Linked DNA regions of Homo sapiens. The protein of the gene in region 4 binds, or shares a complex with, the protein of the main gene of each other region. Each region holds a gene or a part of one and is shown on either strand. Other genes may lie near its edges.

What was found.
Region 1: METTL3 (region 4) and RBM15 share a complex: the UniProt entries of both Homo sapiens proteins name them as parts of the WMM complex.
Region 2: METTL3 (region 4) and CBLL1 share a complex: the UniProt entries of both Homo sapiens proteins name them as parts of the WMM complex.
Region 3: METTL3 (region 4) and WTAP share a complex: the UniProt entries of both Homo sapiens proteins name them as parts of the WMM complex.

What each region holds. Positions count from the first base shown.
Region 1 is NC_000001.11:110,341,873-110,347,177, reverse strand, and holds the end of RBM15 (RNA-binding protein 15), read right to left. Parts: coding exon 4,910-5,305; intron 1,640-4,909; coding exon 1,569-1,639; 3' UTR 1,529-1,568; intron 871-1,528; coding exon of another isoform or gene 824-870; 3' UTR 501-823; downstream 1-500. UniProt on the Homo sapiens protein: RNA-binding protein that acts as a key regulator of N6-methyladenosine (m6A) methylation of RNAs, thereby regulating different processes, such as hematopoietic cell homeostasis, alternative splicing of mRNAs and X chromosome inactivation mediated by Xist RNA.
Region 2 is NC_000007.14:107,746,508-107,754,708, forward strand, and holds part of CBLL1 (E3 ubiquitin-protein ligase Hakai), read left to right. Parts: exon of another isoform or gene 1-989; intron 990-2,372; coding exon 2,373-2,540; intron 2,541-6,037; exon of another isoform or gene 6,038-6,110; intron 6,111-6,903; coding exon 6,904-7,004; intron 7,005-7,387; coding exon 7,388-7,471; intron 7,472-8,201. UniProt on the Homo sapiens protein: E3 ubiquitin-protein ligase that mediates ubiquitination of several tyrosine-phosphorylated Src substrates, including CDH1, CTTN and DOK1. Targets CDH1 for endocytosis and degradation.
Region 3 is NC_000006.12:159,722,888-159,731,030, reverse strand, and holds the start of WTAP (pre-mRNA-splicing regulator WTAP), read right to left. Parts: upstream 3,526-8,143; 5' UTR 3,328-3,525; intron 147-3,327; exon of another isoform or gene 66-146; intron 1-65. UniProt on the Homo sapiens protein: Associated component of the WMM complex, a complex that mediates N6-methyladenosine (m6A) methylation of RNAs, a modification that plays a role in the efficiency of mRNA splicing and RNA processing.
Region 4 is NC_000014.9:21,500,657-21,508,857, reverse strand, and holds part of METTL3 (N(6)-adenosine-methyltransferase catalytic subunit METTL3), read left to right. Parts: intron 1-4,976; coding exon 4,977-5,194; intron 5,195-5,280; coding exon 5,281-5,685; intron 5,686-6,954; coding exon 6,955-7,130; coding exon of another isoform or gene 7,131-7,149; exon of another isoform or gene 7,150-7,150; intron 7,151-7,728; coding exon 7,729-7,945; intron 7,946-8,175; coding exon 8,176-8,201. UniProt on the Homo sapiens protein: The METTL3-METTL14 heterodimer forms a N6-methyltransferase complex that methylates adenosine residues at the N(6) position of some RNAs and regulates various processes such as the circadian clock, differentiation of embryonic and hematopoietic stem cells, cortical neurogenesis, response to DNA damage, differentiation of T-cells and primary miRNA processing.

The DNA.
Region 1 (5,305 bases), on a different chromosome or scaffold from region 4:
TCATTAACATTTAAAAAGCAAACGGAGCATTTCTCCTTCTTTTGGCAATTTGGTGCAAATGTTAAGTGCAAGATAAAGCAATTTCAAACTTTTCTTCAAATTAAAAATGAAACTAAGGCCAAACGTGATGGGTGAACAAAATAAATCAAAACTTAAATTTCAGCAACTCCAGCTCTTCAAACCAGCAAAAGCCCCCGACTCAGGCACTGTGGTGAGGCTTAGGGTGCCTGCCCCGGCTTCTTGCGTGCCAGCAAACAGCACCATTTCCTCATCACGTTGAGAACCGAGAAGCAAATGATCCCCTTCACTGCAAACAAAGGGGGTCAACAGTAACACTAGTGATCCTTCAGAATTGACACACCGTGATAGTCAAAATGAAATTGATGGTCTCCCTGCTTCTTGCTCAAGACATACAAGATCTGAGCAGCAGCAAGCACCCCCTCGGCTGCAAACAAAGGGGTCAAAGGTTTGCCGTCAATTCACTTCCAGGCAGAAAAACATTTTCCTCAAAAGAAACAATTTATTTAGAATAAAACAAAAGCAGCTCAACTGTGAGCGCACGTTTGAGAGACAGCTACTCTTAAGCTGTGTGAGCCATAAAAAGGGTTTTTCTTTACTTTTCCAGAAATCTTGTGTACACAGCACAAATCAAAGAGGTCATTTTTTTTCCACTTAAAACACCGGCATTGGCATCACAATAGCAGATACACAACTTTAAGCTGCCATTTTAGTAAAATGCACAAATACTAAACAGATTAGCTTTCTTCCATCAGAGGCCCATGTAAACTCCACATAAGCCACAACTTCTCTTCAAAAAGGTCCATTAGAGCTTTGAATTCCATATCTTCATCCGCTGTTCAACCAGTTTTGCTTGCGGAGGGGGGGAAAAAAAGGTTATTCAGTACAAATGTTTACAATATTAAAAATATATATATTTCCCCTATGCCATTATAGATGAACATAACATTAACAAGACCTTCCTGGATGGTTCACCTCAACTTCAAAAAGCACCAATAATACCCACTGGCATAAACCTTGAAATGAATTTACTGTATGAATAGACATATAACAAGTAGAACAATAGGGTGGGTTTTTTTAAAGACTGCAATTGAAGATAACAGGACTGAAAATATCCTTTAACTCATGTAACTGAGTAAAACATGTTGAAAAAATTCAGAAAAAAGTTTCACAATCAATTTATAATCTATCAATATATTCTAAATATAACTTAAAAAGTGAAACTATAAAAAGGTAAAGTTTAGTCAAACTTTTGCCCCATCTATTTTCATTCTGTAATTTATATGGAGCAACATAGACTACTCCATTATTGTAGAAAGGGGTCGATACAAAGCCATTTAAAAATCCACCCTCATCTATGTTACCAAAGACAGCAGCCGTTATTTTAATAAAACACTCATACAAATAATTGTTAAACAGCCAAAGAACACTTCAGGAATCTCACTTTTCAACTCTGTTTAAACCATACATATAAAACTCTTCATTCAGCTTAACATTTCACTGTGGTTACCTGAAATCATTTCCTCCCTTTAGGGACACCACTATAACCACTATAACAGGGTCAGCGCCAAGTTTTCTCTCTTCTTGTTCTCATACCTAACTCCTATCTGAAAACCAAACCCTGTGAGAGAGACAGAAAAAAAAATGTCCAGAAATTCTCTCCAAAATTTTTTTCACATAAAAGGTCATTAAGGCCCTCTTCTCAAGAGGATTTCCTAATTCTGTTACCAGAGTTTTTGGTGATTGGTTCCTATATGGACCCAAACTATAGTTCAAGCTGTATATGCATAATGAACAATCTGCCTTAAAAAAGTGGATTTACATTTTTTATTTTTAAAAAAGCATTGTCAGTGAAAACCTGCTAATAGTTTTTAAATAAACCTAAACAATGTCTGACTCTGAAAGCAATAACCAAACACCTGACTCTTATTACTGGACCTAAAATGACCTGTAACTGAGTCAAGAAGGGCCAGAGTATATTTTACCTTCAAAAGGTGACAAATGCTTATAACCAGCCAGGCGATGGACATTTTAAGATGTAATCCTCAAAAGAAAAACTCTATCCACTCTCAGTTGAGAGTCAAAGTACACCAGAAATTTAAAACTTTGTGTGAAAAATTATTTATAGGAATCCCAACAAAATACTTAACCAAAAAGTTAAGCAGAACTATTGGCTAGGTATTGCTTGCTTAATTTTCCATAAAATTTGAAGCTGTGATCTAAAAGTCTTATCTTCACGTTTTTACCAATAATACTTAATAGTCATTAAATGATATCCTGAAGTTTTCTTTCCATTCATTTTAACTGAGTTCCAGAAAAATCAACTACATTAAAATAATTAAAGAAGAAAGATAGAAAAAAATTGGTTGTTACAAAGAACATTCAACGTTGGGATTATTAAATCCTGGCTAATGAGAAGTAGAACCGGTTTTAGACTTTTGCTTTCATTTGAATTCTTAAGGTTTAACTAGATACTTTATGGATATTATGAACCTGCACAAAAGAATGGGCAGTACAAATATGAGGTTCATGTGGACTATGGCACTCTGTAGGTAATGACCAACTAAACATAATTAGTTTTTTATAATACATACATTTAGAAATGGTATCAAGCCATTGTTTCAAAAACACTGAAGCACAAATTGCCCAGACCTAACAAAAGCGGCAATGTCAGGTAAAGATTCAAACAAACATGGAGCAAAAACACAGTACTCTTCTGTACGCTGTCACACTAACAAAAAACAAAAAACAAACAAAAAAAAAGAAAGTAAAAGAAAAGAAATAAAACACACATTTTGGATGACAGTAAAATTAGATGTCATGGACTTCACTCTCCAAAAGAGCAAAATCATTTGTCCAACTATCTCAACAAAAGATATTCAAAAATTAATGGTTAGTGAGTTTATTTAAACTGGAAAAATGTAGCTGGCCACAAATTATACTATGAGCCCACGTATGTAGACTCCACACTTGCATTAGTTTCTGAACAGGTGTCTACTCCAAACCAACCACAGCTTTTTGAAAGCAAGAAGCATCAAAAGTCTTCATTATAGGATTTCAGGTATTTTCCCAAGAGGCACAAGGACCTTCATGCTCATAGCCTAGAACCTTCCTTCTCTCAAAATGGCTAGTTTTTCCAGTTTAAAAACAAACAAACAAAAACCCCCACAAAACCTGCAAACTTAAAAAATTATAGATGCATAGTGAAAACCAAGAGGGATGACACAGCAGTGATGACACTTTTGTGCTGACATGCATTAGACACCTGTCATAATGGAAAATAAAAATTACATGACATTTCCCTGGGTTATTATTGGTGCTATTTCAAAACTACCAGCTTTGATAACAGAAAGAAAACAGTTGGGTTCTGCCAGGCTTCAAGTTAAGTCACTTTCATAGAACAGAAACATGACCATGATCCAGAAGGTCCAAAAGTCTCTAATCATAATTAAATATCAAGGGCCTTAGCTGAAGTCTTCAGCACTTAAATCAAGGGAGAAAAATATACTTACTAATGACCTGACAAATTAGGGGTGGGACAGAGGGGATAGATTAAAAAAAAAAAATCCATTACTGTTAAGCAGCAAAAGTCCTTGTTGAGAACCAGAGGTTGATATCATCTCACCTTTGAAAAAAAAAAAACTGTGAGGCTAAGTTAAATGATCCTGTATTAATTCCGGGTGTCTGGGAAAATAAAACAATTAAAAAAGGTTTTCCTACACTGACATTTCAATTCCGTAGCTGGACAGCAGTGAGAATATTGAACATAAAATTTCCAAGATGTTCAAAACATTTTCAATAATGTAATGTCACTACTGTTTAAATATGAAAATAAAAAGACAAGCAAAATTTTAAAAGAGCATGTCAAAGGCATTTTATGATGACTTTTTAAGAAATTCTGCAATCCAAATATGGCTGATTTAAATGCCCACTGAAATAAAAGATGACTATGAGCCTGCAGACAACTCTTCTTTCTATTATTGAAACCAGAAATTTGAATTGATACAAAAACAAAAACTCATCTTTGATGAAGAACACTTAGTTTCGAAATATGCACGATTAGAACTGTACCTGCTACACCTCTCTGAAAAAGTCAGTAAAAACACCACCACACACCAATAACTGACCAAAGAATTCTGATTTTAAAAGCACCTACTCACTTCTTGCATACTAGTGTAAGCATAAGACATATATGGTTTGTAACATAGTCCTTAATTTTTACTGAACAGTTACTGCTACAAACCAAAAGTGCATATATGGGATACAGAACTCTAGAACAAATGATTTAAAAAATGCATGTTAAAGCAAACTCTCTGGGAATAAACTGTATCTTAAGAAATACTCAAATACCTGATTAAAATAATTACATTGCTATACAATTTACCAGCATATCTTTGAGATCCCTGATCAAATTTCAGTCACACACATTTCTGGTAAAAGAATTATTTACCTACACACCAATCGAGTCATTTTTAGGTGGCTATTACTCTCTTTATATGGTCAGTGGACTCCTTTCTCCAAATTCTGACTTTTCAAAATTTTGGTTTTGTAACTCTGAGGATTTTTTAAGCTCAAGATTAAAAAAAAAACAACTGAATAGAGAAAAAAAATTACTCATAAGGGTGGGAACTCCTAATTAAAGCAAATCTGTCTGCCTGCCTGCTACCTTTAGGGCATCCCTTTCACTTAAAATAATAGCTAAACAAACAAAAAAATAGCTAAACTGTCCTGATTTCTATTTTAAAGACGTTTATAAAAATATAAAAAAGAAAATGCTACAACTAACAACTAAAAAGAAAATTGCATCTGATGCTGTATCCCATTACACATCACAAAACAGGAACCATGTCAAAGTAGTAAATACAAGTTACACATGGACTTTAGGACGCACCACGGACAATGATCATGACCAGGTAATCTTCTTCAGATTTGGCCAGTGCCTTGGCAGGGGAATCCAGGAACTGCTGGGAGAACTCACAAGGTGGGAAGGCATGAAGGACCCCGGTGTTTTCCTTGTCTTTGTTGCCCCCCACAGGGAGGCTGATCACCCCGGCTGCCTGCTTTTGCTTTAAATAGGACACAAGGTTCCTAAGTGGCCTCTGAGTAGAAGTGGCAGTGTCTGATGCAGCTGAGGAAGAGGAGGACCGGCTGTCAGAACTTCCAGGCACAGCCAAAAGAATGGCATAACCATTGGGCCCTGCTACTTTGATGCGTCGAGTTACTTCATCCAACTTGGGCTGGTCCAAACGGAGACGCTGAGTGATCTTGAGCTGGGCCACTTTGCCTC
Region 2 (8,201 bases), on a different chromosome or scaffold from region 4:
AGATTCTGGTTTTCATGAAATTCGTAAACATGAATTTGATAATTGTTTAAATCACAAAGGCTTTGACAAATGAGGAAATGCCACTTAGCTAGATAATTGAAGAATCATGACAGGATAGGCATCTCAAAAGAATAATTGTAATATTAAAGGATTAAGAGGTCCTTGGGGAAACAGATGAAACCCTTGAACATTATGCAAAAATGACCCATTTTATGATCATACCGAAACATTCAAATGTGAAAATGAAGGTGTTCTAATAGAATCTTGCCAGAAAAATTACTCCAAGGGGCTCCCCATTAACACTGGATTTATTCTTTGGTCATTCTAAGAATTAGCACTTCTGTAACTGTATCCCAGATTTTGTAAAAGATCCCAGATTTTGTAAAATATTTATTGGTTCTTTTTATTCAAGATAAAAAATCCCCAATCTTTTTTAAACTATATGATATGGAAGTGTTGTGCCTTTTTAAAGTGAATTTATCTGAAGTGGCCAGTAGTCCTTAGTCACTTTCTATGTAATATCTAAGAAATTTTTGTTGTTAAGGACTTTATAATTTGTTACTGTATTCAAAAGGAAATAGTGCTTTATGCTCTGATTCTTAATTTAAAAACAACAAAAAGCAAAAAAGTCCCAAAGAAACCCAGAATGTTATCATTATTAAATGCTGTACCTCATGAACTTGAATCTGTGAAGCAGAGTGGGAAGGGCCAGCCAGCTCTTGAAAGTGGTAGACTATGCAAGCAACAGTAGAGACCTCAAGTGTTCAGGATGGTGTGAAAAGGACTTGTAATGAAGTGTTGGTATTTTCATTATTCACAAAGGTAAAACGATTAAACCATTTTGATATTTGAATATTTAATATTTGAGGGACAGCATTGAACTGATTATATGTCTACAACGACTTGCTTTTTAGTTCATTGGAATGTCAGGAATACTTTTTGAGCAAGGAAAAAAGTCATTCATATTTCTTTTGGCCAATGCATTGCTTGTAAGTACTTTTACATACATAAGCAACTACAATGAAAACAGATCAAATACATTAATCAGCTTGTGAGTCTATTTAATGAAGTGTTGAAAGCTGATCAAGTTGGGTTAACCCTAACTCAAGATTCTAGCTAACCATGTAATTCCACCCCTCTTTGTTTTAGGATTAGCTGTTATAAGAGTAGTAAGTAGATTAAAATAATCGTTATGGACCCATTTTTAATTTTGTTTGGTATTTTGTTCAGAAAAAGTGCAAATGAATGTGAACTTATTGTGTGTCTGTAATCCTAGTAGCCTTGGAGGCCATTGGTACTAGCTTACTACTTCCAAATTTGGCTTTGCTGAATTTAATGTGGATGGTTTGGCTATCAGTCTTGACTGTAATATTTCCTGCAGGGGCAGTTATACAACCTTGTTCAATAACTTGTCATGTTTAAAACACTACAAATTAAAAAATACGTTATTTGTATTTCCTATTTTAAGCATTTTCCTTCTTTAGTAGGTCAAGTTAAATATTTTCTGTATTATATATTTTCATCTACTTGAAAAAAGGTAACTCTTAAGCTTTAGATGGAGTCAGTTCTATGAAATAATACTCCTGTTACTCATGGGACAAGAATTAATTTATTCTATAGACAATAACAAGCAAAGACTCCAGGGACTAGAAAGTGACACTTGTTTAGACCTAGTTGTAGTATAGGAACTTTGCATCCTCTTAAATTATAATTTTCCATTACAGTGCTGACTAAGAACTCAGTCACATGTTATAGCACAAATACATTATTGCATGTTTTTACTACTAAATGGTATAATGATTTTTACTATATTTCTGAATGATTTTTAGAATAATTATTTTGCGCTTAAGGAATAATCACATTTCTTAACTTCATTTTCAAACGCATTGTTTAATTTTGCCTTCATCAGTATTAGTAAGTTCAGTTTACTAAATTTATTTTCTGCTTTGCATGCTTGATGATCAGACATGGAGACAGGGATGGTTTTCGTTCTTTTTCTCCTTCTTACTCTTTTTCTTTTAAAAAATTCTCTTGTAGTTCAAGACAATGGTTCTTGGGTTCATTAATGGTTTCATGTTTCTGTAAACTTCTCTGGAATTATATGAAAAATTTTATTCACTTTTCTAGGGAGAGGTCCTATAACTTTTATCAATTTCTTAAAGGATTCTGTATCTCAAAAGGGGTTAAAAAGCATTGCCTTAAGTGTTGATCCAAAATAAATAAAATTAGCAGTTAAACTTAATGTAATATTGAAAATCAGAACCCAGATCTTTAACCTTGATAATGTTAGGTATGGTGTTTTAATACCTGTGGCAGAATAATCTTTAAAAAGAAAAACTAAAAGAAATTACAACTTTTTTTTCCTAACACAGACAATGAGTTACAAGGCACTAATAGTTCTGGATCCTTGGGTGGTCTTGATGTTCGCAGACGAATTCCTATAAAGCTCATCTCCAAACAAGCAAACAAAGCGAAACCTGCACCGCGAACTCAAAGAACTATAAACAGGATGCCTGCAAAGGCTCCACCTGGTGATGAAGGTAATTTGTTTAACTAATAGGTCCAACACTCTTTCTGTTTTATCTGATTGCTTCGGACAGTCTGTGTGATCTTATAGCTACCTCTTTTTGTCTTACATATTCTATTCATTCTTCAACCTTCTTGTTTGACTTCTCATTGTAGCACATTGTATTTTTATTTTCCTTTATAAATATTTTTTGATTTGGTTCCTTTTGTTGTTGAAAGCAATACTGCCCATTGTTCAGTAATCTCAACAGTATTGCAGAAAGCATAACATTAAAAGTAAAATCCTTCTATCCAAAGATAATCCCTGTTGACTTTTTTATACAAAAGTATTAATTTTTTATGTGTAGTTGCCATTTTTTCATGTAATATGCATTTGAGATTTTTTTCTTATCAGTACTTACAGATGTACCTCATTAAAAAAATAGGTTTGGGTATTTATAGATATACCATAATTTATTTAACAGTTTTTCCAGTTTTTTCTGTTACAAAAAACATTGCACCAAATATTCTTGGACATACAGTTTAGTATGTATACTTTGTAGAATTTGTACTTTGCACAGATTTGGCCTTTTTTTTTTTTTTAAGAGCAATTTGACAGTACTTGTCAAACTCTAAAATCCACAGTATCTGTCAAGTTTTAAAATATCCAAATTTGTAGTTTTAAAGGCTTTGGAATTAAAAAAATAATAATAAAAAGGTATGTTAGTTTTTACTGCCATACACCAATACTGAGTACTAGAAACCTTTTAAAATTTTTGTTTTGATGTAAATTTATTTTAATTATGAAAGAGTGTATATTTTTTCATAGCATTGACCATTCTTGTTTAGATCCTTTCTTCTGAGTTCTTTGTAAATTAATAGGGTTTTTGTTATATGTTATGTATGTGCGTGTGTGTATATATATTTTTTTGTTTGTTTGTTTGTTTGTTTTTGTTTTTTTGAGACTGAGTCTTACTCTGTTGCCTGGGCTGGAATGCAGTGGTGGGATCATGGCTTGATATTCCAGGCTCAAGTGATCTTTCCACCTCAGTCTCCTGAGGAGCTGGGACTACAGGTGCACCCCACCTGCCTGGCTAATTTTTTATATTTAATTTTTGTAGTCATGGGGTCTTGCTATGTTGCCCAGGCTGGTTTTGAACTCCTGGACTCAACAGTCCTCTTGCCTTAGCCTCCCAAGGTGCTGGGATTACAGGCGTGAGCCACTGTGCCTGGCCTATATTGTATATATTCTTCATTTGTCTTTTGAATTTTGTATACAAAATATTTATTGCAGAGAATCTTTTTTTTTTTGAGACAGAGTCTTGCGCTGTCACCCAGGCTGGAGTGCAGTGGCGGGATCTCGGCTCACTGCAAGCTCTGCCTCCCAGGTTCATGCCATTCTCCTGCCTCAGCCTCCCGAGTAGCTGGGACTACAGGTGCCCGCCACCACGCCCAGCTAATTTTTGTATTTTTAGTGGAGACGGGGTTTCACTGTGTTAGCCAGGATGGTCTCGATCTCCTGACCTCATGATCCGCCCGCATCGGCCTCCCAAAGTGCTGGGATTATAGTTATTGCAGAGAATCTTGAAGATTCTATATAGTCAGATATCCGGTCTTTGCTTTTATGACTTCTGGGTTTTGTGACATTATTTGAAAGGCCTTCCCCTATTTCACCAGTATAAAAGAGTTTTTCCATCTTACCCTTGATTACAGGTTAGCAAACTATGTCTGTGGGCCAAATGTAGCCCTGTTTTTATAAACAATTTTATTGGAACACAGCTATGCTCATTCATTTAAGTATTATCTATGGGGGCTTTCACACTATAATGGTAGAGTTGAGTAATTGTGATTGAGACCATATGGTCCACAAAGCGTAAATATTTACTATTTAGCATTTCACAGAAAAAGTTCACTGATACTGCTTTAGAACATTTATGGTTATTAAGGGGAAAAAAGGTGGGGTCTGGCTTTTTTTTTTTTCCCTCGAAACATTGTCCCAACTCTTTTCCTTGCTGAATAGGGATTTTACTGTTATCATATATATGTTAAAGCAGCAGTCCCTAATCTTTTTGGCACCAGGACTGGTTTCGTGGAAGACAGTTTTTCCACAGGTGGAGAGTGATGGCAGGGTGCGGGGAGTGGTTTCGGGATGCAACTGTTGCATTAGTTAGATTCTTGTAAGGAGCACCAACCTAGATCCCTCTCTTGCACGGTTCACAATAGGGTTTGCGTTCCTATGAGAATCTAATGAGGCTGCTGATCTGACGGGAGGCGGAGGCAGAGGTCAAGTGGTAATGCTCCCTAGCCCTTCCCTCACCTCCTGCTGTGTGGCCGCATTCCTAACAGGCCAAGGGTACTGGTCCAAGGCCTGGGAGTTGGGGACCCCTGTATTAAAAGTATTTTTTTGTATTTCTGGACTTTCTGTTCTATTCCAGCAATTTGTCTGTATTTATTTTGTAGAATCAAACTGCTTTAGTTACAACATATGTTATGGTTTCTTTTATCGTAGGGTTCCTCTGCCATCTAAACAAGTATATTTCAAGTCAAAATGTTAGAAATCGTGTTAGTAATAACCTAGGGCTGCTGTTGCACTACCTCTAATTTAGGGTCACTCCTGCTTTGGCTTTGTTTAAAAAAATAGTTTTTTAAAACAACACGTTAGTGTACAAATAATTCTTTAATAGTTCAAACAATGCAGAAAAGCCAAAATCCTTTTCTCTCCTTTCCCTCTCGGATTTTGGAGTAAAATAAGTTTGTTTTTGATTGTTGTTTTCCTAGGCATCAATCAAAATATATATAGTTTAATGATGGGAGTACAGGTGGAACTACTCTGAAAAATGATAATGTGCTCCTAATTTCCTTGGCTGTTATCTCAATAATTTTCTGGTTTGAAAAATTGAGTTTCTGCCAGGTGTGGTGGCTCACGCCTGTTTTCCCAGCACTTTGGGAGGCTGAGACGGGCGGGTCATGAGGTCAGGAGATTGAGACCATCCTGGCTAACACAGTGAAACCTCGTCTCTACTAAAAATACAAAAAATTAGCTGGGTGTGGTGGCGGGTGCCTGTAGTCCCAGCTACTCGGGAGGCCGAGGCAGGAGAATGGCATGAACCTGGGAGGTGGAGCTTGCAGTGAGCGGAGATTGCGCCACTGCACTCCAACCTGGGCGACAGAGTGAGACTCTGTCTCAAAAAAAAAAAAAAAAAAGAAAAATTAATTGAGTTTCCTTATTTTGAATTTTAGATCACACCAGCTTTTCTAAGGTGTAAATGGGTGATATAGGAGCCTAGGAACACTCAGGTGTAACTTATAAGAGCATCCTGACTTTGGATTATACATTCGTATTGGCAGTAATTAAATAGCAGTACACTGAAGTGTCTATCAGCTTCAAAAACTTCTTGCATCATTGTTTGTGTGTTAATGTGAATGTGTCTCTCTGTGTGTGTGTGTGTGTGTCTGTGTCTGTGTATAGGTGCTGTAATTTAGTCATGTGGGTAAAGTTAAAACTTGTGTGCTTGGCTACTCTGTTTACCAGTTCTAGGGCCAAAAGAGTCGTGAGAAGCCTGGCTCCTTGGAGGGATATATTTGTCTGCTCAGCTTTACTTTAGGTAATTGGATTCTACCTAGAATTCCCATCAGACTGTTGATTGGTTTTCTGTTCTTTTGTAGGAGTTGAGAAGATTGCCATCAACTTTTTAATTAGGCCAGAGAAATTGAGCCCCTTTCATCTTCATATATCTTAAGTTTATTGATATTGATAAATGCATTGTAGGAAAGGATACATGAGAATACGATATGGCTCCTGTTGTTTGGGTAATTAATCAGGGAGTGGTTTTAATTGACAGGATGAAATATGAATATGTTAAAGTGTCTAAATCACTCATTTTAGGGCTAAAGAAGAGGATAACTTGTTTGCTAATAAAATCGATAGAATGCTTTATGTTTTCATTATGCTATTGGCAATACAATCAGTCTCTTAGCATACCATTTTTGTAGCTAGACTAGAATAAATGGTGATCAATATCTTAAAAATTTGTGCAACAAGCATGATCATCAGTAAAGTTTTACATTAGAAATAGTTTCATGAATTGATAAGAGCATTTGAATGGGAGTCAAGAGATCTGAGGTCTGTTCCTGGCTTTGCCACTTATCTTCTATATGTTGAGTTATGAGTCTCCATACAGTAATATTCTCAATAATGAAGTAAAAGAGTTGGACTAGATCACCAAGATCACTTCTAACTGATGTTTTAAAGTAATCTTGATTGTCTTATTCTTAGAAAAGCTTTGAAAGGCATCAGATGAGCTTTTTAGTGAAAAGGTCTATTTTGCCATGTATATGTGCTTCCAAAATGAAATTTGAGATTTGGAAAGTTAATGGGCAATACTTTTTTTTTCTCAGAAGGATTTGATTATAATGAAGAAGAACGGTATGACTGTAAAGGGGGTGAGCTGTTTGCAAATCAGCGAAGATTTCCTGGACACCTTTTTTGGGACTTTCAGGTATAATTAAAAATGAAAAATTGTATTATAACAATAAAATATTTTAAGTATTAAATACTTAAAATGTTTTATTGGAGTAATGCACAGTACATTAAGAATATTATGAACTTATAACTATGATTTTCAGCACATACAAATCATTTGTTAATACTCTATTTTCAAGAATAATTTGAAGTAATTTTCAGTAAAATCAATAACTGTTAACACTAAGAAGAAAAACTAATGGTATCACAACTAATGGTGGGGAATAAATGGAGATTATACCAAGAGGCTTCTATTTCTAATTGTTTTAACAACTTTTATAAAATATTGACCAATTCATTGTGTAGATACAATCTTTAGAATTGTGTAAGAAGGTAATTTTAATTATATCATTTCAACAGATAAACATCTTAGGTGAAAAGGATGATACACCAGTTCATTTCTGTGACAAGTGTGGATTGCCTATTAAAATCTATGGGAGAATGGTAAGTATAATTAAATATTGTTTTTGTAAGTAAGCATTTGCATAGAGGTGGGGTTCTGAAATTTAGATAGGTTTATCATTGTTTAATGACTAAGTTTGCAAAATTTTAAATAAGTATGAAATAACTAAGGGAAGTATTGGAATACTATGAATTTAATATGATTATCTTGACAAATTGTTGAATTCTTATAAAATATTAAATAAAACTGAAAATTAGAATAATTTCTGAAAACTAATTCCTTTGGAGTGTTTGATACCAGTGAATTTACAGTTATTCTAGTTTATTAAGGAAATTTTTGTTTCTTAATAAATAGAACAAAACTGCTTATTTTTGAAGGCCACAATTTTTTACATAAAACTGCATTAATAATATTTATAATTTCTCTTTTTTTCCTGAGGCTCAGAGAGGCTTAATAGTAATTATTATTTCTGAAAATTGAATTATAATCATTAAAAAAATTTTACAATCCTAACTGTAATTTTATAGTAATTTTCACATTTCTTCCCTCCAAAAAAGATAGTTTTGCATTTGCCTTTAGAAAAAAAAAATTGAATTCAATAACATACCTGTGATGGTAGATGGCATGGATTATGCAGTGTTGCTTTGCTGAACATCATAGTAAAGAAATAGTAACAGGCTGTGAATTTAAAAATGTGCTTCTAACATCATTTAATGTATCCTTCTGATTGATTTTTAGATTTTTATTAGTTAATTAACTTGAAACTACCAG
Region 3 (8,143 bases), on a different chromosome or scaffold from region 4:
GAGCTGGAACTACAGGCACGCACCACCATGCCCAGCTAATTTTTGTATTTCTTTTTTTTTTCTAGTAGAGACAGCGTTTCACTATGTTGGCCAGGCTGGTCTCCAACTCCTGACATTGGCTTATGTTCTTTTTAAAAAGTTTGATGGTGAGTAGATTTTAATTAAATGGTGCTTTTTATTGAAATTTTCTTTAAAAATAAAACTCTGTATTTGTAATGTAAGTCAGGAGTAAATACAGATTTTGGATAAATGTCTACACTTCCTAAGTCAACTCTCAGAGTCACTTTTAAGATCACTCTAGCTGTCTGGGGTATCCAACTTGGGAAATTCAGAGCCTCAGTATTTAGAAAGAAAATCCTTCCTCAACTTTAATCTGATGAAAAGTAAATCTTTCCTTGAAAGTCGATGATATGCCACAAAGTTAAATGCGCCATCTGGCAAAAGGCAAATTAGAACAGGTTCAAAATTTACAACTGTCTACAACATTCAACTATTTGGTCAAAATAGAACCTAATTGGCAATTTTGACTTTCACACCACACGAATGTACCGAGAAGTTTGGTATTCCCCAGGGCAATTTTTTTTTTAGCGCAAATGACAAACACAATAACCTAAATTTAAAGTCAATTCTAGATTCATAAAGGCAATGAATATTCTAGGTTCTCAGAACAATCTATTCTCGTATCAGAAAAACAGAATGACCATAACATCATTTGGAGTCAATTAAAGTTGAATCCTGAAGGAAAATAATAAAGAAAATATGTTCAGTTCTTATGAATCACACATTTAATAACAGCACTTTTCAAAGTCAAAGTTAGTTCCCATTTTCCAGGATGAAAATGACTGTTAGTCATTAGGTGATCAGCTATTAGGTGATTAAAACAGCTATTAATTAATAAATTGGGGGTAAGGGTCTCAAATTTGGTGCCCCTCAAAAGGGTGGTAACATGATTGACTAGTTTTAAAATTACATAAAAGTTTCAGTTATTTATGTAGATAATTCAGAGATAATATATCTCAGAAAATCAGGACCACCATCTACTCTTGATGCCTTAACACAGAAAAACAGCTTAGTATGGAGTTCAGTCTAGACTGGTTAGGTGCCTAGCATCCCAGATCCCAGTACCTTCCTGGCTCTTAGCATCATAAAGTTAGGTAACTCAGTTCCCTCTGAACGGAGGCAAGCGCCAGCCAAAACAACTTCAGTAAGAAGACACGGTACCTTGGCGAACAAATCATAGCTGAATGTAAGACACCAATCTGCAGACACTGTAGTAGCAAGGTACTGATGAGGAACTGAAAGGCCATCTTTTCCTTATCCTCTATCTGCCATGTGTGATTCCAAGCAAGTCTTTTAACTCTTGCAGTTTCCAAGTCAGCAAAAAGATAATTTTGCCTGTCTCACAAAGTGCTGCAAATATTAATGCTTTCAGCACAATAAAAATGCTATAGATTTTTCAAATAAAATATGAACATAATATGAACATAAAAGGCAACTTCAATGTGCACTTAGAAAAGATTAAATTCTATTAACTACATCTTCAAAGGCAGAAAATATTTACAGCAATATATTTTAGTCAGATGGAACATCTTGTTATACACAATACACAATGAAGTTTACTATTGTGGAGATACTGAAAAGTTTTTCTGTGTTAAGCTTAGTAACTACAAGAAGCAAAATATTTAGAGGCAGAAAAGTTGGAGACAACTAAAAAAATTAAAAACAAGAATAAAACCAAAATACTATCTTCAGTCTTCTTTTGCTGAAGGACCTACTAACTAACGTACAATTTTGAGGAGCAAGAAGCAAATACATAATGATCAAAACTGCTAAACAATATATTCAAGGGGATTCAATACTACATACAAGACCATAAGAGACCTTGAACGCTTTAATGTACTGTACAAATTGTGACAATGCTCATCTCCACATCACAGGGCTTTTTACACATTGTGTTTCATCTCTACCAGCTTATTTCTGACAAACAATACACAAAAATATTTTCAGCAAACATGACTCAACGTTGAATTGGAAAAGCTAGACATAAAAGAGCCATGTAAAAATAAGCAGTGCCTGGGACACACTATTATTATTACTTTTATCCTTTAGGAGTTAGCAATTCTGGTAGCTTGTCCAAATTCTGCCAATGAAAAAGTACTAAAAATACTGAACTTTTAAACCATGTGTCTGCTTAAGATACCTTAACATATAAAAGCACTGTAAGAAACACACCTACCCAAACCCTTAAAATGTAACCTCAACCTTATCACAAGCCAGCTTTGCGGACTGCAATCTTTCCCCGACTTGGCTAATCAGATGCTACTTGAATGAATTAAAATGTATCCATCTTGAAAAGATTTTTCGCTCATAGTTTTAAATTACGGTTTTAAATGTCCACAACATGTTTATCTATCGTAGAAAACTTAATGGTCAAAATTTTAAAATCCAAAAAACGAGAACTTGCGATGGATCTATGACGTCCACTTATCTTCCGAAGCAATGGAATTAACTAAAACTAGATAAAATAGGCACAAATACAACTTCCAATTGTAACATACTCATAGAAGTATTTCCCTACCAGACTAAATAATAGTTTTTTTGTTTTGTTTTGTTTTTTTTACATAATCACAGTTATGCTAGTCCTTGATAATGTTAAGCTAATCCTTTGGGATCAAACAACCAAGTGACTTTCTTATCAAAACAAGAACTCGGGCTTTTCCATTACGTGTACACAGACTTATGAAAAACGGTGAAAAAAAAATCTAGTAACTGTCTCACAGGGATCCAAGGTAAGACTTGGATTTCACAAAAATCTGCAATAATTCAGTTTCTTTCCTCAGAATGCTTATACTCATTTAAAAATGGAAGTCTACAAGAGAACGTAGTAACATCCTACTGCGTGACATGAAATGTAGGGAACGAATGTTTCTTTTTTTCCTTGCTGAACTCGTTAGTGCCGCCAGGTCCTCAGGAGAGGCCCAAGGGAGGTGAAGGGGGCGACCCCGAGGCGAGGAAAAAACGAGCGCCGCCGCTCAGCCCGGGGAGGGCATCCTCCGGCCTCCGTGAGTGGCCGGTCTCTCCGGCCGCCAGAGCACCCCTCTCAACCCGGGCCTTGGGGACGGAGGACAGAGATAAAATGGCCTCGAAGCGGCGGAAGTGTTCCCCGCAGGCGGGAAGGTAGAGCGGCTCACGAGAGACCGGTGCCGCACCAGGCCCGTGTGGCCTTTCGGGCCCTGCCCGCCCCTTACCCGCCGGGGGCGGCTGCGCATCAGCCCTCAGGCCCCGGAGGTCCCCCGCGTCCGCTCCCGCCAGCCGGCCCGCGCCTACCTCTCCAGGCAGAAGCCGCGCCGGCGCCACCGGTCGCATAGGCCGAGGCCGCGCTGCTTGCCCTGCCGCCCGGGCCCCCCGGGCCACCGCGCAGCCGGACAGCTCTGCCGCCGGCCCCGCCGCGCTCCTAGTCCCGCCGCAACCCCTGCGCTCCCCTTTATTTGTGGGTCTCGCTGCCACAAAATGGCGCTGAGGGAGGAAACCAGGCCCCGCCGCCCGGCCCCGCCCCGCCGCACGGCTCCGCTCCGCCCTGCCCCGCCCCACAGCCGGTCCGAACGCGCCGCAGGCCAGCGCCACTGCCTCCCGCCTCCCGCCTCCCGCCTCCCGCCAGCCTCCCCGCTCCGCCATGTTCGCCTTCTGGCCCACTCACAGGAGAGTCGCCTTTCAGGCGTGGCCGCAGTCACTCGCCCGCCGCCGAACCCCGCCAGGAGAGGAAAGGTGAAGGGAGGGAGGCCGTCGGCCTAGCCCGATCGGGGCCTCGAGGCACAATGGAGCAGCTGCTCCCCGGTAACACTCCCCGTCCTTTCCCAGGAGCCTGGCGCGAGCTCCGCGGGCCCCGGAGCTCAGCAAGCTCAGTAAGGGAAGCGGCCGAGGGGAGGGGCGGGCCAGCGAGGTCGGAGGTCAGCCCCAGGGCATCACGGGAAGGGAAGGTGGAAGTACTCGCCGGGGCCACCTGCGGCTGCGGGGCTGCCTCGTGCGGAGGGATCTGGGCGAAGGCGGCGCGTGATTGGCCGCTCTGTGTTCGTGACGCTCATCCGTGATGCTTCCGCGTGTCGGAGGACCAGGTGCCACCTCAAGAGAGAGGCCGTGGGCGGCGAGCCGCGGGCGTTTACTCTTAGCAGAAGCTCACCTGTAAGTTTTGAGAACTTAGAAACCGATGCCTTCCCTCTCATCAGTCGTGAGGCGCAGTCTCCTGGCCGCTGGGTTCGTTCCTCCTTGACATCTCTGGAGACGCATCGAGGAGCTATTGTTCTCTGGCGTCGGAGGTTGCGCTGTGTCCGCGGCGTTGAGGGCCCCTTGCTAACTGGAACACGGGGAAGGCGGCCCTGTGAGGTTTAGTGAACTCAATCAAAGAGGTCCTGCAAGTGGAGTAGACTCCCTGAAGTAAGACTGCCATCTGGACCGCCGAGTAATGGCGGTGTTACCTGGAGAACGTGAAACAGTCTCTAAACACTTACTAGAAGAGCACGTAATTCTTTTGATTGGTCTGTCCTTAGCCGGCTTTATCAAACCTGTTCATCCCCAAAGGAGTGTCTTGTAGTAAGGTGATTTATTAGGATAAGATTAAAGTACATTCCAGATGGTCGTAGTATATTTCCAGTGAATCAGATCGGTCTGGAGAAAATCTTTGCAACTCGTATCACAAGAGCTCTCAAAAATTGAAAACAAAAAGTGCAAAAGCCAAAGGAGAAAATGGGGAAGGACATGAACAGATGATTCTCAGAAAAAATACCGTAATGGTCTTTAAACATAGAAAGTCGCTCCACCTCACTTACAATGGAAATACACGTTGAAATTACCTTTCCTGGTGGGAGTGGAAAAATGGTTCAAGTTCCACGGAGTACAAAATTACTTGTGTTTATTCTTATACCTTGCAGTTATACTTCTAACCCTAACCTTATTCTGAAGGTGCAGCTCCACACATGGAAACAATAGGTATACAAGGTTATTGCAGTGCTATTTGTCATAGCAAAAGTTAGGGATAACCCAAATATCCGTTAATAGGGAACTGATTGGGAATGGTGCATCCATACAGTAGAACACAATGCAACCATTAAAAAGATTCAGGAAATAATCGTGTGTTGCTTTGGAATGAGTCTCAGGTTGTATTAAGTATTCACTTAAATATTTAAGTGTAGTAAGTATTCACTGTATTCAAAAGCAAAAATAAGCATATATGCTTTTATGTATTTACTTAAATACATAAAAATATATATTTATATTTAATATGAATATTTATGTGTATATGCTTATTTTCGGGGAGGAATTGGAAGGATATCCTGGAAACTTAACATTTTTAGTTGCCTATAAAGAGTGGGGGGTGGAGACAAGATTTCTCTGTCTTTGAACTTTTAGTTTTACATAGCCAAAAAAGTAAATAAAAAAGGAAACAAAGTAAATCCTAAGGTTGAAAGCAAATTGAAACAAATGAACTTAACTGTTAACTAATATAACTAAGATACACAGAAAAAATAATTATTCTTTGGGTTTTTTTTTTTTTTTTTGAGACAGTCTCACTGTGTTGCCCAGGCTGGAGTGCAGTGGTGCAATCTCAGCTCACTGCAACCTCTGTCTCCTGGGTTCAAGCGATTCTCTCAGCTCAGCCTCCTGAATAGCTGGGATTACAGGCATGCGCCACCATCCCCTGCTGATTTTTGTATTTTTAATAGAGATGGGATTTCACCATGTTGGCCAGGCTGGTCTGGAACTCCTGACCTCAGGTGATCCGCCTGCAGGTTGGCCTCCCAAAGTGCTGGGATTACAGGAATGAACCACCACCACTGGCCCCTCTGAGCTTTTGAACACAGTACTCTAGTAGTGTATCTGTGTTGTGATAGTGTAGTCTTTCCTTATATGCAGGAGATTGGATTTAGGACCTTCTGCGAGCATATACAGAAATCTGCATACTAAAGTCCCGGAGCTGAGCATAGGGAAAGTTGGTTCTTTGTGTAGGTGTGTTTTGCATCCCACTGTACTTCTGTTTTGTTTTCTTCCTTCCTTCCCTTTCCTTTCTTTTTCTTTTCTTTTTTTCTTTCTCTCCCTCTCTTCTTCCCTCCCTTCTTCCCTCCCTCCCTCTCTTCCCCCCTCCCTTCCTTCCCTTCTCTTGCTTTTCTTTTTTTTTTTCTTTTTTGAGAACAGGGTCTGACTCTGTCGTCCAGGCTGGAGTGCAGTGGTACGATCATGGCTCACTACAGCCTTGACTTCCTGGGCTCAAGCAATCCTCCCATCTCAGCCTCCCGAGTAGCTGGGACCACAGGCATGTGCCAGCACATCTAGCTAATTTTTTTCTATTTTCAGTAGAGAGCTGTGTTGCCTAGGCTGGTCTTGAACTCCTGGGCTCAAGTGATCCTCCCACCTAGCCTCCCAAAATGCTGGGATTATAGGTGTGAGCCACCGTCCCTCGCCCCACTGTATTTTTCATCTGTGTTGGGGTGAAAAAAATCCACATATAGGTGGACCCTGGCAGTCCAAACCAGTGTTGTTCAAGGGTCAACTGTGTATTCTAAGGATGAAAAAAGTGCACAGGAGCTTTCAGCTTCACTGATTTATGATTAATGGTAACATTGTTACTGTGGTTTTAAAACTCTGTACTGTATATGGTAGGATAACATAAGTATTTTAATGTTACTATATACAAAGATGTGCAGTGTGTGAGAGAATGAGATACAAACACAAGATCAAAGAAGTTCAGAAAAGGGCCGGGTGGCTGATGCCTGTAATCCCAGCACTTTGATAGGCCAAAGCGGGAGGATCACTAGAGTCCAGGAGTTTGAGACCAGCCTGGGCAACATAGCAAGACCCTGTCTCCATTTTTTAAAAAATTTAAAACAATTTTTAAGACGTTCATTCATCCGGGGGTGGGGGTGGAAACTAATATAAAGAATTTTAAGAAGTTCAGAAAAAAAAAGTCTGTAGTATTGAGTTTAAACTGGAGGGCTGGGTGCAGTGGCACACACCTGTAATCCCAGTGCTTTGGGAAGCCAAAGTGGCTTAGGAGTTCAAGACCAGCCTGGGCAACACAGTGAGATCTTGTCTCTACAAAATACAAAATAATAAAATAGCCAGGGGTGGTGGCCTGTGCCTATAGTCCTAGCTACTTGGGAGGCTGAGGCGAGAGGCCCAAATGAGCCCAGGAGTTTAAAGTTACAATGAGCTGTGATCTCACCAGTGCACTACAGCTTGGGCAACAGACCCTATCAAAAAGAAAAAAAAGTTTCAACTGCAAAAAAAAGTCCTAGTTCTGTGGACTGAAAGGGCCTAGAAGCACTAGGGTGACCAGTTGTTCTAGTTTGCCACAAACAGAGGGGTTTTCTCTGGATGCTGGACTTTCAGATTAAAACTGGAACAGTCCTGGCTGAACCAGGATGTATAGGCATGGGCACCCTACAGTAACAGTGAGCACATCTGACACTGAGATCTTGGTTTCTAAATTCCATTTCCCACTAAAAAGATCCAGAGCTCCTTTGGAGAACTGGCTGATTCCAGCTCTGGGACGGGAAAGGTACAAGATGAGCCAGGTATTTCGTTGTGCCTGAATGCAGAGGAAGTGCTTAGACCAATGAGGCTATGCCAACTGTAGTTAGGAGAACAAACAACACTAATCCATAGTGGTAGATAGCAGATCAGTGGTTGGTTAGGAGGGGAAGAGAGAAGGAATTGACTGGAAAGGAAAATGGGAGAACTTTTGGGGGTGATGGAAATGTTCTGTGTCATGGTTAGTGGGAATGTATACGTTTGTCAAAATTCATCAAATTGTGTCACTGTAAAGAATGCATTTTATTGCAAACCAAATGAGAAAAGCAAAGTCGATTGAGAACTTGCTGTAGCAAGGGAGTCAGCCACCATCCCTTATGTTTTAGCAGAGGTTCAAAGGCATGCAGAGGAGTGGGAAAGCTTTACAGTGGACAAAAGGAAAGGTTTCACAGGTATGCCTGATTGGAAGCTGTTGGCATGGGGAAGCTGGAAGCTAACTACAAGTTGGCATCCTATGGTCTTGGTTAAAGGAGCATATTTGGCTTTCTCTGGATGGGCATAAGCTAGAAGTGAGGACAAAAAGTAGGGAAGCTGTCAAGTTTTAATCAAGTCCTGGCCATTT
Region 4 (8,201 bases):
CAATGGCGCGATCTTGGCTCACCGCAACCTCCGCCTCCCAGGTTCAAGTGATTCTCCTGCCTCAGCTTCCTGAGTAGCTGGGATTACAGGCATGTGCCACCACTCCTGGCTAATTTTGTATTTTTAGTAGAGACGGGGTTTCTCCATGTTGGTCAGGCTGGTCTCAAACTCCCAACCTCTGCTGATCTGCCCGCCTCAGTTTCCCAAAGTGCTGGGATTACAGGTGTGAGCCACTGTGCCCGGCATCATACTTCTTTATACTTTTCCATTTCTAAATTCATACTCTTTCAATGAATGATTCTAATTGCTCTTGGTCATTTTAAGTTTCATTTCATTTTTCTATGACATTAACTACATTTTGGTATTAACCAAACTTTCTGCTGTATGCAGACCTAACTACTAGAGCCTTGATACTTTGATCCAGGTCCTTGCTAAACATGTTTAATATTTTTGACAATAAGACTGTATTCTCCCTGCATGTACATATCCTTTTTTATTTTTATTTATTTTTTCTTTTTTAGATGTGAATATCTCTTGATTTGTATATTTAGCTAGTAATATAGCTAAGACCCTTTTCTGTGTGTGTGTGTGTGTAAGATAAGAATCTCGTTCTGTTACCCAGGCTGGAATTCAGTGGCGTGAACACAGCTTACTGCAGTCTCGACCTCAGGGCTCAAGTGATCCTCCTGCCTCAGCCTCCTCCTGAGTGGCTAGCACCACAGGTGTACCCTACCATGCCTGCCTACTTTTTAATTTTTATTTCTTTGTAGAAACAGGGCCTTGCCATGTTGCCCAGGCTGGTCTTGGACTCTTGGGCTCAAGCTATCCTCCCACCCTGGCCTCCCAAAGTGCTGGGATTACAGATGTAATCCCAGTCTAGTTAAGACTCTTATAAAAGTATTTTTGGGGTTGTAATTAAATGTATCTTGTCTTCTGACCGAGAGCTTGATCTGACCCATCATTTGGTACTGTGGTAATAGGTAAAGATGAAACATACAAATTAAACCAGAATGTCACTGTTCTTTCTGTGTTATTTTGATTATTTCAAAGAATGTATTTTGTTGAGCTTTAGGATTCTTAGGAAACCCTTGTGAAACACTGTATTGTAAGTTTATGAATCATGTTGTCATGTAAGATATAACTCAAGACTTGATAAAAGTTCAGATTATTCCATTCGTTTCTCACCGGAAATAAAAATTTGCCTACCACATCTGTTGCCCAGGCTGGAATGCAGTGGCGCGATCTCGGCTCACTGCAAGCTCCGACTGCCAGGTTCACGCCATTCTCCTGCCTCAGCCTCCCAAGTAGCTGGGACTAAAGGTGCCCACCACCATGCCTGGCTGATTTTTTTGTATCGTTTTTAGTAGAGACGGGGTTTCACAGTGTTAGCCAGGATGGTCTCGATCTCCTGACCTCGTGATCCGCCCATCTCGGCCTCTCAAATTGCTGGGATTACAGGTGTGAGCCACCGCGCCCGGCCACACCTTGTTTTTTACAGCATTACTGAAATCTGATAATTACCGACTACTGAACTGAGTGTCAAAAGACAAGGATATAAAATGAACTAAAATGTACCCACCACATCGTTAATAGTGGAAAATAATATGGGCAAAATATTGGGAGACCTTTGTTAGATTGGCATTTTTATTATTTATTTATTTATTTATTTATTTTTTGAGACAGAGTTTCGCTCTTGTTGCCCAGGCTGGAGTGCAGTGGTGCCATCTCACCTCACTGCAACCTCTGCCTCCTGGGTTCAAGCAATTCTCCTGCCTCAGCCTCCCGAGTAGTTGTGACTACAGGTGTCCACAGCCTTTGGAAGGCTAAGGCGGGTGGATCACCTGAGGTCAGGAGTTCAAGACCAGCCTGGCCAACATGGTGAAACTCTGTCTCTACTAAAAATATAAAAATTAGCCAGGTGTGGTGGCAGGTGCTTGTTGTATGTACTACAGGCACATACAACCTTGCCTGGCTAATTTTTAGTATTTTTTGGGCAAAACGCCCAACAGGGTTTTGCCATGTTGCTTAGGTTGGTCTTGGACTCCTGAGCTCAAGTGATCCTCCATCCTCAGCCTCCCAAAGTGCTGGGATTACAGGCATAAGCCTCCATGCCTGGCCTCCTTCCTTTTGAAGGATAAATAATATTCCACTGTATGTATATAACACATTTTGTTCATTCATCCATGGGTGGGCGTTTGGGTTACTTCTACCTTTTGGCTATTGTAAATAATGCTGCTATGAACCTGGGTGTATGAATATCTCTTTGAGACCCTGCTTTAATTCTTTTTTGTTTTGTTTTTTCTTGAGACGGAGTCTCGCTCTGTCACCCAGGCTGGAGTGCAGTAGCGCGATCTCGGCTCACTGCAAGCTCCACCTCCTGGGTTCACCCCATTCTCCTGCCTTAGCCTCCTGAGTAGCTGGGACTACAGGTGCCTGCCACCACGTCCGGCTAATTTTTTTGTATTTTTAGTAGAGACGGGGTTTCACCGTGTTAGCCAGGATGGTCTCGATCTCCTGACCTCGTGATCTGCCCGCCTCTGCCTCCCAAAGTGCTAGGATTACAGGTGTGAGCCAACCACGCCCGGCCGAGACCCCGCTTTAATGCTTTTGGGCATATACCCAAAAGTGGAATTGCTAGATCATATGGTAATTCTATTTTTGATTTTTGAGGAAGCGCCATCCTAATGGGTGTTATATATCTCATGTTGGTAAAGTATATTTTTTTAAAAAGAAAAATATTACTTAAAAAAATCTTTATTTTGGCCTTGGCAACAGAGCAAGACTCCGTCTCAAAAAAAAAAACTTTATTTTAATGGAAACAAACTATATTTGGCCAGGTTTAGCACATAGTAAATATGTGAAGTGCTCCAGTATATTTCTTGAGATTGAAGATGTGCATATAGATGTTGACACGTTTAAGGATTCAGCAAATTTGTAATCAGACCATATTAATTTCAGTGGTTCTCTTAATTAAAGGGTGAATCAAGTGTTATGTATTATTTTGCTAAACCGAACACATTATTTTCGTTAGATTAGAAGCAGAATGTCAGTGTAGTTGCAGCAGAGCGGAGGCATTGAGTAAATGTGTTGAATAAATAAATGAATAAATACCTTATGAAGGATTTGGAACCCAGGGATTCTTATCATTTTCTGGACAGTAACCGGTTTTAGGGATGATAAAACTTTTCCCCAAATGTCTGTATACATACAAAACTTTGCACGTGAAAAGTTTAGGGAATTTCACCTGAATAACAATTGTATTAACCAGCAGTTAAGTTTTATCCACCACATTAAACATAAGCTCCCTCCTCCTGATAACCTTAAAAAAGGTATTTTCAGCTCTAATATTCTGAATGTAATGTTGGGGAAAAAAAACCTCCCAGGAGGTGTTATTAATACAAGGATTCATAACCAGAATTACATCACCAGATATTGGAATGAGCAGTATTAAATCAGTCAGATTACCAATGAGAAAAGTCAATACCAACTTGTAAGGACTGAAATATTTATGTTAACATGGTTCTTTTTATAGATTTCTCACTTAAAAATTTTCTCACTCACTTAATTACTCAAAGAACATCTTCAGTTACTAACTGGAGAAACTGAAAATGAAAGAAGAAATGGGTGAGAGTGGAATCCTCCCACCTCAGCCTCCCCAGCAGCTGGGACTACAGGCACAGGCCACCTTGTGTGGCTAATTTTTAAAAAAATTTTCTTTAGAGACACTGGGTTTCACCATGTTCCCCTGGCTGGTCTGGAACTCCTGGGCTCAAGTGATCCTCCCACCTTGGCCTCTCACAGTGCTGGGATTACAGAGATAAGGCACCACACCAAGCCCTGAGTCAGATTTTAATAAATTCAGTTTCCATTAGAGTGGAAAATTTTCAAATTAATGAATTATTTATTTATATATTTTTTGAGACAGAGTCTTGCTCTGTCGCCCAGTCTGGAGTGCAGTGGCATGATGTTGGCTCACTGCAGCCTCTGCCTCGTGGGTTCAAGCAATTCTCCTCCTTCAGCCTCCCCAGTAGCTGGGATTATAACCTTGCATCACCACCCCCAGCTAAATTTTTTTTTTTTTTGTATTTTAGTAGAGATGGGGTTTCACCATGTTGGCCAGGCTGGTCTCGAACTCCTCACCTCAAGTGATCCACCCACCTTGGCCTCCCAGAGTGCTGGGATTACAGGCGTGAGCCCCAGTGCCTTACCAGAATGGAAATATTTAAGTAAACAAAATATTTCTAAATGTAAACTAATGGCCTACTTATTTAGCAATTTCAGTTCAGTTCTTAGGAGTTTAATATTTCATCTATATTTTAATTAACCACAGATATTAGGCTTTCTCAAAGATAACATTTTGTCCTAATTTTAGTTTCTCAAATCGTTATTAAGGTTATGATGGCAACCCAGCTTGTGAAGTAATAGATGATAATAATATAGTCAGGAAATATCATTTGGTAACCAAGGCTTCAGCAAAGTATTAAGATTTTTGTGTTTGTGAGTGTTATAGGTAACACTGTTGGCCCCCAACATTGTCATTTTGTACACTTTGTTGATCAGTGGCCTGAATTCATTAAAATTCACACTACATGCCTCAAAAAGAATATTGGATCCCAGCCTAGGTTGTTGAGTATATTCCTGTCCTTTATTAAAATGTAGGTTGATAGAAAGGTGGTAGGGATATTTAAATCTATCATGCTAATTTACTTTCTTTGTATCACAGCAAGGATAGGGAATTAGGAAAAGATTACTCACTCAATAGAGAAAAGGTAGATAGAAAATCCAGTATTATCTTGACAAAGCAGTGAATGTTTTAGTATGATTGAGGATAGGTAATCTAGTGCTAAAGTTGGTCACAGAATTTCCTGCACAAAATGAAAGATCTGTGTATGGGAATGCTAGAGAATTTGACTTCTCAGAAATATATAGACCAACAGTGGTTGCCTTTTTTCATTTTCACTTCTCTTCATTCTTAGATCTACGGAATCCAGAGGCAGCATTGTCTCCAACCTTCCGTAGTGACAGCCCAGTGCCTACTGCACCCACCTCTGGTGGCCCTAAGCCCAGCACAGCTTCAGCAGTTCCTGAATTAGCTACAGATCCTGAGTTAGAGAAGAAGTTGCTACACCACCTCTCTGATCTGGCCTTAACATTGCCCACTGATGCTGTGTCCATCTGTCTTGCCATCTCCACGGTAATGACCTGACAGAGTTAGGATTTACCACTTATTTTCAGTTCACGGTCAGTGTCTTATTGCCCATACCTCCCCTCGTTCTCTAGCCAGATGCTCCTGCCACTCAAGATGGGGTAGAAAGCCTCCTGCAGAAGTTTGCAGCTCAGGAGTTGATTGAGGTAAAGCGAGGTCTCCTACAAGATGATGCACATCCTACTCTTGTAACCTATGCTGACCATTCCAAGCTCTCTGCCATGATGGGTGCTGTGGCAGAAAAGAAGGGCCCTGGGGAGGTAGCAGGGACTGTCACAGGGCAGAAGCGGCGTGCAGAACAGGACTCGACTACAGTAGCTGCCTTTGCCAGTTCGTTAGTCTCTGGTCTGAACTCTTCAGCATCGGAACCAGCAAAGGAGCCAGCCAAGAAATCAAGGAAACATGCTGCCTCAGATGTTGATCTGGAGATAGAGAGCCTTCTGAACCAACAGTCCACTAAGGAACAACAGAGCAAGAAGGTAGGGGTCATGTGAAAATACTCTCACAATATGCTCTTAATTATAGCTTTGTTTGACAGGGATTTACCCCTAGGGCAAGGAACTGTTTACAGCAGTGGTTCTCAACTGGGGATGATTCCCTACTGCCCAACTCCCAGGGGATCTGGTAATGTCCGGAGACATTTTTATTGTCACACATGGGGGAGTGCTATTGGCATCTAGTGGGGGTAGAGGCCAGGGATGTTGTCAAACATCCTACAGTGCATAGTGGGACAAACCCCCACAACAAACAGTTGTCTGTCCCAAAGTGTCAACAATGCCAATGTCGACAAATTCTTATTTAGATAATCTGTCACTGAATCTGAAAGAATTGGATCAAGAGAAGAGGAATCCAAATATATAGAAATATAGGGAGATGAATGGAGAGGAATACTAGACCAATTATGGAAATTGACTAAATAATGTGAATTGGTTCTGAGTATAAGCATTGGCCTGACATGAGTTCTTATCTGTTTGGTACTTCTAGTGCGTGAGTTTGAACAAGTTAATTAACTTCTCTTGAGCCTTAGTCTTCTCATCTGTAACATGAAGATAATACCAGCGTATCCTGCCTTATAGAATTGAATAGACTCTGAGCTAAAAAGTAAAGTGTTTAGCACTATACTTTTTAGTTCAGCACCCAGTAAATATGTTTTTTGTAGAAGGAATGCCTTCCTGGGGAGGGGATGTTAACATAATGCTTAGCGGTAGGAACCAGGCCTCTTCCATTTTAATTTCATCCCAAATGCATATTTGTGAGGAAGGACTGAACCCCTAACAAATCTCTTATCTGAAGGCTCCAATTTTCCAATATTAAGTTAGCTAATTTAGGTCTAGGCACAATGGCTCATTCCTGTAATCTCAACACTTTGGGAGGCCAAGGCGCGAGGATCACCTGAGGCGAGGAGTTCAAGACCGGCCTGGGCAACATAGACCCTATCCCTATAGAAAGTAAAGTAATTAAAACATTAGCTGGCATGGTGTCACGCACCTATATTCCCAGCTACAATTGAAGGCTGAGCTGGGAGGATCACTTGAGCCTGGGAGTTCAGTGGGAGAAACAGTGAGTTATGATTACACAACTACACTCTGGCCTGGGTGACAGCAAGATCCCATCTCTTAAAAAAAAAAAAAAAAAAAAAGTTGATTTATCTCTTAGAAGACATTAATGTCAAAAAGAATTTGCGGAGTTGGTCTAAGAGCCAATTTGATCTATAAGACATTTTAAGTCCAAGGCTACTTCTGTCACAGGTCAGTCAGGAGATCCTAGAGCTATTAAATACTACAACAGCCAAGGAACAATCCATTGTTGAAAAATTTCGCTCTCGAGGTCGGGCCCAAGTGCAAGAATTCTGTGACTATGGAACCAAGGAGGAGTGCATGAAAGCCAGTGATGCTGATCGACCCTGTCGCAAGCTGCACTTCAGGTCTCTTGGAAGGGAATGAGGTGGGATGGGTTTGTCAGAAGCAGCCATTCCTTTTCAGCATATTCCTTCCAGTCATTGGGGTTCTGTCTGTAATCTTATTTAGTTTATGGTTTGTGTAAGTCCTCCAGACCCTGAAGGTGTACTTTCAGAAGTGCATTGTGTGGGAAGAATACAGGCTGTACTCCCAAATAACTGAGATTTTTTTTTTAAAAGCTCCCTCCCTCTTAGAATAGCAAAGTATGTCTGTCTCTGAGCCACAGTGAAAGTTAAAGTACTCTGAAAGGAGGATAATCTTAGGAGAAAAGGAACCTAAACTCTTAGGTCAGTGTTTTATTCTGTTCTACCCAAGTCTCCTGCACTGCTTGCCTTCCAGTGGTAAAACAGGAAACCAAGTCTTTACTCAGAGAGGAATTACAATTGTTCTGTAGTATGAATTATGGATTTCCATGCTACCTGCCTCCCTTAAAACTCTTGAAGGAAGCTCTAATGATAGAATTAGGGGAGGGTAATAAAATAGACATTTTGAAATCATTTGGAATTTGAACTGTTGGATCTACATCTGGAGCACCATCTTGATTCTCCCTTTTTATTTTCCCAGACGAATTATCAATAAACACACTGATGAGTCTTTAGGTGACTGCTCTTTCCTTAATACATGTTTCCACATGGATACCTGCAAGTATGTTCACTATGAAATTGATGCTTGCATGGATTCTGAGGCCCCTGGCAGCAAAGACCACACGCCAAGCCAGGAGCTTGCTCTTACACAGAGTGTCGGAGGTGATTCCAGTGCAGACCGACTCTTCCCACCTCAGGTACCTGTCTGCTCAGAAAACTCGTCTCAACTTACGGACTTATGTTTGATAGGGCAGCCATACACGTTAAGAAAGCAGAGCATAATTCAGCAATCTTGTCTTGCTTATTGGGAATGGAGGGGGATAGATAAGCTTTTAAGGGAATAGGAAAAATCAAATGGAAAAGAGGGACTCGGGCCATGAATCTCAGAGTTAAAGTAGGGAAGATGACCAAATACCACTTTATGCAGTGGATCTGTTGTGATATCCGCTACCT